Homo sapiens: one gene and its partner. The main gene of each other region encodes a partner of the protein of the gene in region 2 in a complex. Each region holds a gene or a part of one and is shown on either strand. Other genes may lie near its edges. The genes, in order: CFTR and YWHAQ. A codon is read from its position in the direction of its gene.

Evidence for each region.
Region 1: the proteins of YWHAQ (region 2) and CFTR are in contact, whole or in part, in a crystal structure (PDB 7QI1), measured with the Homo sapiens proteins. Residues at the interface, in NP_006817.1 of Homo sapiens: Asn38, Arg41, Asn42, Ser45, Val46, Lys49, Arg56, Arg60, Glu113, Phe117, Lys120, Arg127, Tyr128, Glu131, His164, Pro165, Ile166, Gly169, Leu172, Asn173, Val176, Glu180, Ile217, Leu220, Asn224, Leu227 (codon at 1,936), Trp228 (codon at 1,933); in NP_000483.3 of Homo sapiens: Arg764, Arg765, Arg766, Gln767, Ser768, Val769, Leu770, Asn771, Leu772, Met773, Thr774.

The regions. Positions count from the first base shown.
Region 1 is NC_000007.14:117,608,981-117,616,296, reverse strand, and holds part of CFTR (cystic fibrosis transmembrane conductance regulator), read right to left. Parts: intron 5,779-7,316; coding exon 5,628-5,778; intron 4,717-5,627; coding exon 4,489-4,716; intron 1,685-4,488; coding exon 1,584-1,684; intron 69-1,583; exon of another isoform or gene 1-68. UniProt on the Homo sapiens protein: Epithelial ion channel that plays an important role in the regulation of epithelial ion and water transport and fluid homeostasis. Mediates the transport of chloride ions across the cell membrane.
Region 2 is NC_000002.12:9,583,410-9,586,256, forward strand, and holds the end of YWHAQ (14-3-3 protein theta), read right to left. Parts: intron 1,937-2,847; coding exon 1,877-1,936; 3' UTR 558-1,876; downstream 1-557. UniProt on the Homo sapiens protein: Adapter protein implicated in the regulation of a large spectrum of both general and specialized signaling pathways. Binds to a large number of partners, usually by recognition of a phosphoserine or phosphothreonine motif.

The DNA of each region.
Region 1 (7,316 bases), on a different chromosome or scaffold from region 2:
GGAATGGAATTAAAGACCGAACTACAGAAGCTAAAGAGAGCTGATCAAACTAAAAAAAAAAGTTAAAGGTAAAGAAACCAACTTTAGTATAAATCATGTTCCAATTAAATTACAGCTCAATGGGTTATGAAAATGCTTAAAGAAAATAAGAAGACACATGAACCAGAAGAGAGCATTAAAAGGGTTTTCTTTTTCCTGGAGATATTTTTTATAATGATGTTTGTTCTGACAGGAGTTGATCATACAAATTTTATAGCTGAATAAATGTGTGTGGTTTGGGAACATGAACACTGTCTCAGAGAACAAGGAAAGAAACTTAAGCAAAAAGTATAATTTTAAAAAGAGTATAATAATAGTGTTGCACAGTCATTCCTAACTTGGGTTTCTAAACCATCTACAAAAGCAGTGGTGAATGAATAATTTTAAATACAGTAGTACAAAAATACTTTAAAAATTCAATGATGAAGCTATCCAGACCAACCATATAGTCTGATTGAAAAATATGCATTTGATTTTTTAAACAAAAATGAGTAAATGTGCATCATTTCCTTTAATTTCTCAGTCCCGCTGCAATGGGATTTGTGCCCCTGATATGGTATTAGCACATAAGCATTACTATAATATTAATGGCTCTGCATTCTAGAAAACCAAAACAAGAGAAATAACACAACTAAAATGTGGTCTTTGTACACACTAATAAAGTATACAAATGTGTGGCAATATTTATCAAGCAGAAAGACAGAAGGCAATGATAAACACTTTAGGAATAAGAAAGGTGCTATCACTAAATAATGTGAAAAAAATTTAAATAATAGTATGAAAATGTTATGCTGCTAAATTTGAGAACCCAATATAAGGAAGGAGTTCTTAATCAAGATACCAAAAGCACAAAACATAAAGGAAAAGACAATAAATTGAACTTTATTAAACTTAAAAGCTTCTTTTCATCAAAAGACTCTATAAGCCAAGCCACTGACTGAGGGATTATGTTTGAAATGTATAGAGCTGATGATCAATCCATAATTCATAAATTCCTACAATTTAATTAAGGAAGAAAAAACTAGGTGACAAATGAGTAATCAACATGAATAAGAAATTAATGTAAGAGAACAGCAAAAGCCAATAATTATGTATGCAGCTTCCCTATATTTTTAGTAATCACTTCACATCTACCAGACACCAAGTGTTGTTGAAGATACATAGCTATGAGAATTCTTGTACTCTCTTGATGGGGATATATATCAGTACAACAGACTTGAGGACAATTTGGCACCACTCAGTTAAGCATGGGTGAATCCTATGACCCAGCAATACAACCCCTAGGTATTTCTCCTAGAAAATCCTGAATAAGGAAACAGGTGAAAGAATGCTCACTGCAGTATTAGATCTTCATAGTGGCTATCTATGAGAAGGAAAGAAGAGATAAGGATTTAATGACAGATACACAGTGACCCTCAATTTATCTGTAATGTTTTATTTCTTAAGCTCAATATACGGTATATAGTTCTTCCTCATGCTATTACTCATACTTTGTTACTTGTCTGAATTTTTTTCATAAAAGTTAAAAAGATGATAAGACTTACCAAGCTATCCACATCTATGCTGGAGTTTACAGCCCACTGCAATGTACTCATGATATTCATGGCTAAAGTCAGGATAATACCAACTCTTCCTTCTCCTTCTCCTATAGATGCACAAAAGACGTAAATGAACCTCATGTTATTTCTCTCTTCTGTGAACGACTTTATTCACACTTCTCCTAGGGCACATATCACATTAAATTTACATTTCAATTTTATGCTAATTTTAACAATTTTTAAATCTCAGTTCATCACAGCATCTACTAATAGAATAATGCTCTGCATATAGTAAGTATTCAACCAGGATTTTAAATCAAAGAGCGATTGAATATTAGGAAAGTGTTGCCCTTTTTAAAAAATGTTACTGGTATTGGAGGTGTTGTTGGTAATGGGTAGGTACCATATTTGTCTCTTCTACTATTATTCTATAAGTAATAACGGTAACATATATTAGAATGGGCAATGGGGAAAAGAGATCCTGTATCCAGATGAGCTGCTTTACAAAGAGACCAAAAGCAGGGGAAGAGTGTCCAAACAGCATCTGCAAGATGTTTAGGTGTGTTCTGTGCCTTTGCAAGGAGGACCTTTGCTAATTGCATGCTATTGGGAAGTAAGTGGACTTAGAATTTCACCGGACAGTCAGAAAACTAACAGTTCTGCCATTTGGAAAGAGAAAAGATTACCCTCTATGCAAAAAAAAAAAAAAAAAAAAAAAAAGATTACTGTACCTGGGAAGAACAACACTTAAGTGTTAAATTACAGTAATTTTTTTTTTAGGGCTAAAGAGGACAGCTAATTAAAATTCATGTGTTCAGTATTATGGCCATAGAAATTCTCTAAGAGGAATGTTCTTAAATTATTATAAAGTTAGACTATCAAGTCCCAATCAAGAGTTCTTACATCTGTAATGCATGATAAAATTGTCAAAAGATTCTACAATTGGGAGAAATAATTCATCTTATTATTAATTGAAATTTTTGTTTCTGCAATTCCTCTAACAGAAGGCATAATATACACAGCATATATCTGCATGTAGTATTAAATTATTTTCATATAGGCAAGATTTATCTAGACCCCAATATATTACTGTTCTGAAGGTTAAGCTGAGAAGATAAAATTTTAATAATAAGTCAGATAACATTTATTTAGTATTTACCATGGACCAGGCACTATACTAAGTGTTTTGGACAAATTATTACATTTACTATTCACCCCACACCTATGGAATAGGTAATATTATTGTGTCTATTTACACTTGAGGAAAATGAGGGGCTTAGATAGTTAATTAATGTTTGCAAGTTAACACAGCTGAAGACCAATTGAGCCAGGGATAATAATAGCTGGGTGGCCAACATCCACTCCGGCTGAGCATCTGATTTGATTGGTAAGTTCTGTACTATAATGATTGTTAAATGTTTTGATTATTGCCCCTAATAAATCAAGACTCAATCACACTCAACCATGTTATAGCATGTGTTATATTGGTTTGAATTAATTGTTAACAAATCTTCATTTATGTAATTCAGCCTTCTTTGATCTTATTTTCAAATAACTTAAAAGAATTTTTTAAAGTTGCTTAAAATTACAGTACTGATGAGGATTAGTACATTTGCCTGCCCATGTATATTCCTTTCATAGAGTCATTTCCCACTGCCCTAGCTGAGAGAACAACAAAGGTGGTGAACCCACTATCCTCATAGCAGCAGAGTAGACTGCAGTTGGACCCCTGAGCCAAAAGGAAGCTGTTTTCTGTTCTCTCCAGGACTTTGAGTTTGTACAGAGGAACTCTCCTGTAAATTCAGGAGGCCAGAATGGAGACACTACATAAAGTCAATGTGGCATAGCCCTGGTAGACCAGAAAAACCAGTCTTCAGAGAGAGAAAGGAATGAAGCAACCACAAAAAGGAATGGACCCAGGACAGATATAGACTCAAGAAGAAGAGCTGCAGCTGACTCTCTTGTGCCTGTTGCAGCTTCTTTAAGAGTCGAATGGCACCACCTTCTCGGTGTTCCATGAGGCCTTTCTGTAACTCCAGCAAATGCCTGCTTTCGGTTTGAGTAGAATTCTGTTCCTACAATCAAATGATCCTACAGATTTGGCATTGATTTGGCATTTGCTCTGCCAGTATTCACTGTCACATATAAGAAGTTATTTCAACACTTATCATAAATACTCAGAAATTCAAATTCTTAAATTAGAGAAACAAATTTACCTACATAGATTTTTATTTTACTTATTATGAAATACTTTGTTTTTCACTAAAGATCCTAAAATCAATCCAGAACATTTGTATTTGAAAAACATGGCACTTTCTTTTCTTCTTTTTCTTTTGAAAAATGTGACACTGTCTTTCTTTTCTGTGACAGTTTTTCTTTGTGTAAAACTCACAATTAGATAACAAATTTTATCTAGTAGAGATTTAAAAAAAACAAAACTTACCGACAAGAGGAACTCTGTGTGTGTGTGTGTGTGTGTGTGTGTAAATGCGGATGTTTCATTTCCCCTCTTTAGGAATCTATTAATTTTGAAGCTAGGACCCTTCACCAATATGAGTATGAAGAGGTGACATATTTCCCCTTCAATCACAGAATTGCTATCTGACAATCTGTGTGCATCGGTTTTTAAAACTGTGAAAACAGGGATAATACTATATATATATATGTATATATATATATATATATATATATATATACATATATATATATATATCCGATTTCAAGGAAATTATTTGTTTAACAATAAAACAATGGAAATTCAAAGAAATCACTTGTTCAATAATAAACCAACAAATTTGTTAATTACTAAACTCTAAAGATATCAAAAATTGATAACCTATAGAATGCAGCATTTTATTCATTGAAAATTTTTTACTTAAATGCTTAGCTAAAGTTAATGAGTTCATAGTACCTGTTGTTAAAATGGAAATGAAGGTAACAGCAATGAAGAAGATGACAAAAATCATTTCTATTCTCATTTGGAACCAGCGCAGTGTTGACAGGTACAAGAACCAGTTGGCAGTATGTAAATTCAGAGCTTTGTGGAACAGAGTTTCAAAGTAAGGCTGCCGTCCGAAGGCACGAAGTGTCCATAGTCCTTTTAAGCTTGTAACAAGATGAGTGAAAATTGGACTCCTGCCTGTGAAATATTTCCATAGAAAACATTGCAAATAACATAAACACAAAATGTAATTTCATAATATCTTGTACCTGAAAAAGACTAAATTAGAATAATCATATCACAAATGTCATTGGTTAAAAAGCTTTTTTTCACACTGGTGCCATTCTTTGAATAGATATGATTTGTTATTTTATTAATGAGTTACCCTCTTTTTTTACTTGGCTACCAGAGATGGGAACTTAAAAAATTACCACCAATATTTATTCCTCTTTCTTGGCTACCACTGGGAGTTTTCTGGCTAATTCTAAATTAATTCTTACTAAAAAAATTTTCTTTTAAGACAATTTTTTCAAGTATCTAAATTAAGGAAGTTTATGTGACTTGATTTAGCTAATAATCTACAAAGCAGAAATATACTGAAAAAGTATTGCCTGAAAATGCACCCACACTAAGGCTGTCACTGCAAAATGTGATTCCCTAACAGCTCAAGTAGAGTTTGGGGGCACACGAAATGGCAGCTCCAACACATGAAGAAAGGGTGTCTGAAGACAACAAGCCAAAGGGACAAATTTGGTCAAGTATCATTTGGGAACCCAGAGAAACCTTTAGTAATAGCAGCACTATCCTTGTTTAATTTGACTGATATAAGTTTATTATAAATGAATGTCCTGTACACCAACTGTGGTAAGATTCTATATACCTATTTTAAAACCAAAATGAAGTCACATGGTCATTAATTAAGAAAAAAAATCCATGTGTACTTTGTAATATAGTTTCCTTTTATATACACATGCATGTAGAAAAAAATTATTGTTATATGATGTAAAAGTTTAAAAGCAGAATTTTTTTTAAGTAGATTAACAATAAAGAATCTCAAATAGCTCTTATAGCTTTTTTACAAGATGAGTATCGCACATTCACTGTCATACCTTCAGATTCCAGTTGTTTGAGTTGCTGTGAGGTTTGGAGGAAATATGCTCTCAACATAATAAAAGCCACTATCACTGGCACTGTTGCAACAAAGATGTAGGGTTGTAAAACTGCGACAACTGCTATAGCTCCAATCACAATTAATAACAACTGTAAGATCAAAGAAAACATGTTGGTGAGTAAACATTTTCACATTGCAAAGTGGACAAAGTGTGTCAGTGATTTATTTCTTTTTTTTTTTTTGCATACTTTAAACACCTCAAACTTTTTTTTATTTTTTTTATTATACTTTAAGTTTTAGGGTACATGTGCACATTGTGCAGGTTAGTTACATATGTATACATGTGCCATGCTGGTGCACTGCACCCACTAACTCGTCATCTAGCATTAGGTATATCTCCCAGTGCTATCCCTCCCCCCTCCCCCCACCCCACAACAGTCCCCAGAGTGTGATATTCCCCTTCCTGTGTCCATGTGATCTCATTGTTCAATTCCCACCTATGAGTGAGAATATGCGGTGTTTGGTTTTTTGTTCTTGCGATAGTTTACTGAGAATGATGTTTTCCAATTTCATCCATGTCCCTACAAAGGACATGAACTCATCATTTTTTATGGCTGCATAGTGTTCCATGGTGTATATGTGCCACATTTTCTTAATCCAGTCTATCATTGTTGGACTAAATACTCTCCCCATTCTATTCCTAGTCAGAAAGTAGCCATTTGCAAGTACATTTTTCATAGGCTCTATGAAAATTTTAAAAATTGTTTAGGTCACTGATAACATTTTTGAAGTTTGAAAACATGGTGTTCTTTGATCTTTGGATATTTTCATTTCCCAGACACTTTAAAGTATTGCATGATAAATACATTTTAAGTGAATATTAATTTAAAATAAACTATTTTTAAATAATTTTAGTATGAAGGTGAATCTTAGGATTTATTTTGGTTAGACAGTTTTTGAAAGCTGGGCATTCGTCTTGGAGTCTTTTGATTCAGAAAGTTCTGCTTGAAATACAAGCTTGTCATTTAGGCAAGCTATCTAACCTTTCGGAGCATATTTTCTCATGCTTAACATTGAAATAAATCATACTTAATAAATTTCTATATTTCTACATTACACCAAATACATACATTTTTAAAAGGTACAAAGTCCGCTAACATGTACTTCACAATAATCCATTTGAATAAAGTATAAAGTAACTGTCTGCAGAAAGGATTAAAAAAAACCACTTTATAATATCCATATGCTGTTCAGTGAGCCAGTTCTCTACCCGTTACCATAAGTGACACATGTATTTTCAACTGATATAACTTTAGAACTGAAAGGGACCATTATCAGGTTTATATTCCCCATTCTACAAGTGACAAATCTGAGACCCTTCAAGATAAGTGTCTGCTCAAGGTAAAATAGTGGGAATCTGTAGAAAATAACCAAGATTTTCAATTTTCACTATACAGTGCTCCAATCCGGAAAGCAAATTTGTCAGAACATTGTCAAAGTTAGAAAATAGAATGAAGATTACATGAGGTATCAAAATACTCAAACTCAAAGAAGCAAAGAACAGAACCATGGGTAACAGGACAGGGGAGAGAGGGAAATGGGGAGATACTAATCAACAGGTATAAAATTTCAGTAGTGCAAAATGAATAAGTTCCAGAGATCTGCTGTGCAACATTTACCCATGGTG
Region 2 (2,847 bases):
TAAAAATCAGTTCTCAAGTCATTCAGTCTCAGTTATTTTACTAATCTGAGATTGGTTAGTAAAATAATAGCTATTGTGATACTATAAAACCAAAATTATTTTGAACTCACTAATAGTAAGATTGAATGTTTACAAACAGAAGCATAGAGTCCCCAACTTAATTTTTTGACTTTACAATGGTGTGGAAATGACAGGCATTCAGTAGAAAGCATACTTCAAGTACCTATACAATCAATGGTTTTCACTTTCAGTGTTCAACAAATTACCTGAGAGATCCAACGCTTTAGTATAAAGTAGGCTTCATGTTCTTTGATTTTGCCCAACTGTAGGGCTAAGTGTTCTGGGCACATTTAATGTAGGATAGGTTAAGCTATAATGTTCATTAGGTCAGGTGTATTCAGTGCAGTTTTGACTTCGTATTTTCAACTTGCAATGGGTTTATCAGGGTGTAGCCCCATTTTAAGTTGAGGAGTATCTGTGTCTGAACTCTTACATTCCTTTTGAATATCCACTGAAGCACAATTCTAATAACAGCCAAGGCACTCACAATCACATAATTAACTTTGCTAGTTTTAAAATGTCCACTTTATTCCATATAACACTTAACCAGATATCATTTACATCTGAGGAAGAGATGGCCCATGAGACTGATCTATAGTAAAACACTCTAAGAAATGCAGTCCAATTTTATACACTTCCAGGCATCCCTAGACAAGTGTGTCACAATGCACAATGTGGAAATATAGGTATCACTACTACATTTTACATAAAAGGGAAGTATCAATAAACTTTAGAAAGTAGTAAATTCACCTGTCCCTTAAAATATGGGTATGCAATTGTTACAAAGCCATAGTAAATGGTTTATAAAATGTACTTTTATTTTATGTTACTCTGCTGTTACATAGGGCATAACATTTTCACAAGGCTTTTTTGGGACTACAGTCAATGATTAGCAACACACAATAGTGGTCCAACTCTCTAAATAACAATCACTAGACAAACTGGACACCCTCTCACATGTGCACAAATCTGCATGGAAAAGTACTAAAGTTTTAGACTTGGACTTGTGTACTTTAATTTATTTCCCCTTTCTAGTGTATTAAGAAATGACATGCACTTTAATTTGCCAAAAGCAATGCTTGTATTCTGGCAGCAACATGCTACTTCTATCACATAGTAAAGTGAATACCAGAACTACAAAGGCAGGAGGTGTAAGTGAATTTTTATTGGGAGGGGAGGTTGGCAACTTAAACAGCAGCAAATAAAGAGTGAATAAGGAAACTCCCTGTTGCCACAGATACACAAGACCTCCGTATGTGATACAGGAGCCATTTCAATTTGTGACCCCTAGACAGAGATGGCAAGTGCTTTTCCATTCAATCTAATACTTCCGGATTCCTACTAAAAAGGAATACATTAAGAGCATGGAAAAGTTGCTTACTGAAAGGAAACCCCCGAAGAGTAAGGGAGGGAATGTAGAAATTAAGAAGTTATGTGGAATACTCTTTAAATTGTAATTAACTACATTTTCTTATTTTCACAGTAATACAAAACACAGTCACTTGCAGAACTGGTTCAGATTACTTAAATACCAGATACATTTTTAGTCCTCTACATAAGTGTTTGGGAGTTACTTATGTTTATATGAAATGAAGCTATTAATACTTTTCTACAGCAGTACTGCACACCAGGAAGGCCAAGACAAACACAAATCAAGGAATGAAGTTTTCCCAAAGCTGCAGTGTGAAAAGACTATAAACAGTTGATTCCATACACATGAATGGGTTTCTTTGCTATAGGAAATCCAAGTGGAATAAGGAATGGAGATGTGTAAAAAGGTTTCTTGAAGGAAAGAAGGATGACACCCTGTATGGATTTAGTTTTCAGCCCCTTCTGCCGCATCACATTCTTCTCCTGCACTGTCTGATGTCCAAAGCTAGAAAAAGAAGAATCATATTAAGTTACTATTTCTAGATTAGGCAATTACACTAAGTAGTATTGTTATATCAAAATTAACTACAAGAGTAGTAAATTCCTCAAACAATGGAGATCTTGACTAAGACTGAAGTTCTCTCTCAAAACCCCAAAGACCATCACCTTCCCAAAGTACATCCTTGCAGACCTTTCACTATGCACTTACAAAATGACATACATACATACATACATATACCACTGGAGCATGGTTTTATAGCTTCCTTTTTATTTAAAAAGCATTTGGCCAGGCACAGTGGCTCACGCCTGTAATCTCAGCACGTAGGGAGGCCAAGATGAGAAGATCGCATGAGGCCAGGAGTTCAACAGCCTGGACAACATAGCAAGATCCCACGTCTACAAAAAATTTCAAAAACAAAATTGGCCAGGTACGGGGTGGTGTGTGCCTACAGTCCTAACTACTCAGGAGGCTGAGGCAGGAGGACTGCTTGAATCCAGGAGGTTGAGGCTGGAGTGATCCATGATTATGACACTGCACTCCAGCCTAGGCAACAGGGTGAGATCCTTTCTCAAAAAAAAAAAAAAAAAAGAGAAACTTTTTTAAAAAGGCACTCTACTTTCAGAATAAGCAAAGTGATAGTCTCTATTCCCAGCAGCCCAATGCTCTTCTTGAAAGCACTACTGCATTATTATTACAGACTAATAAAGCAAAACATTTTCACAGGGAGGAAAAAGCCACAATCATGGTTAACAATTTTCAAGTGTGTGAAGGGCTAAACTATAGGAAAAGCAGACTTACTTTGTGTTTCTCCAAGAATTAAATAGAAGTGGGTGATGGAAGCTACAGGGAAGCAATGTGTGCATGTATAGACAGGGTTCTTGAATTAGACAGAATGTTAAAACTAAGTGGATCTT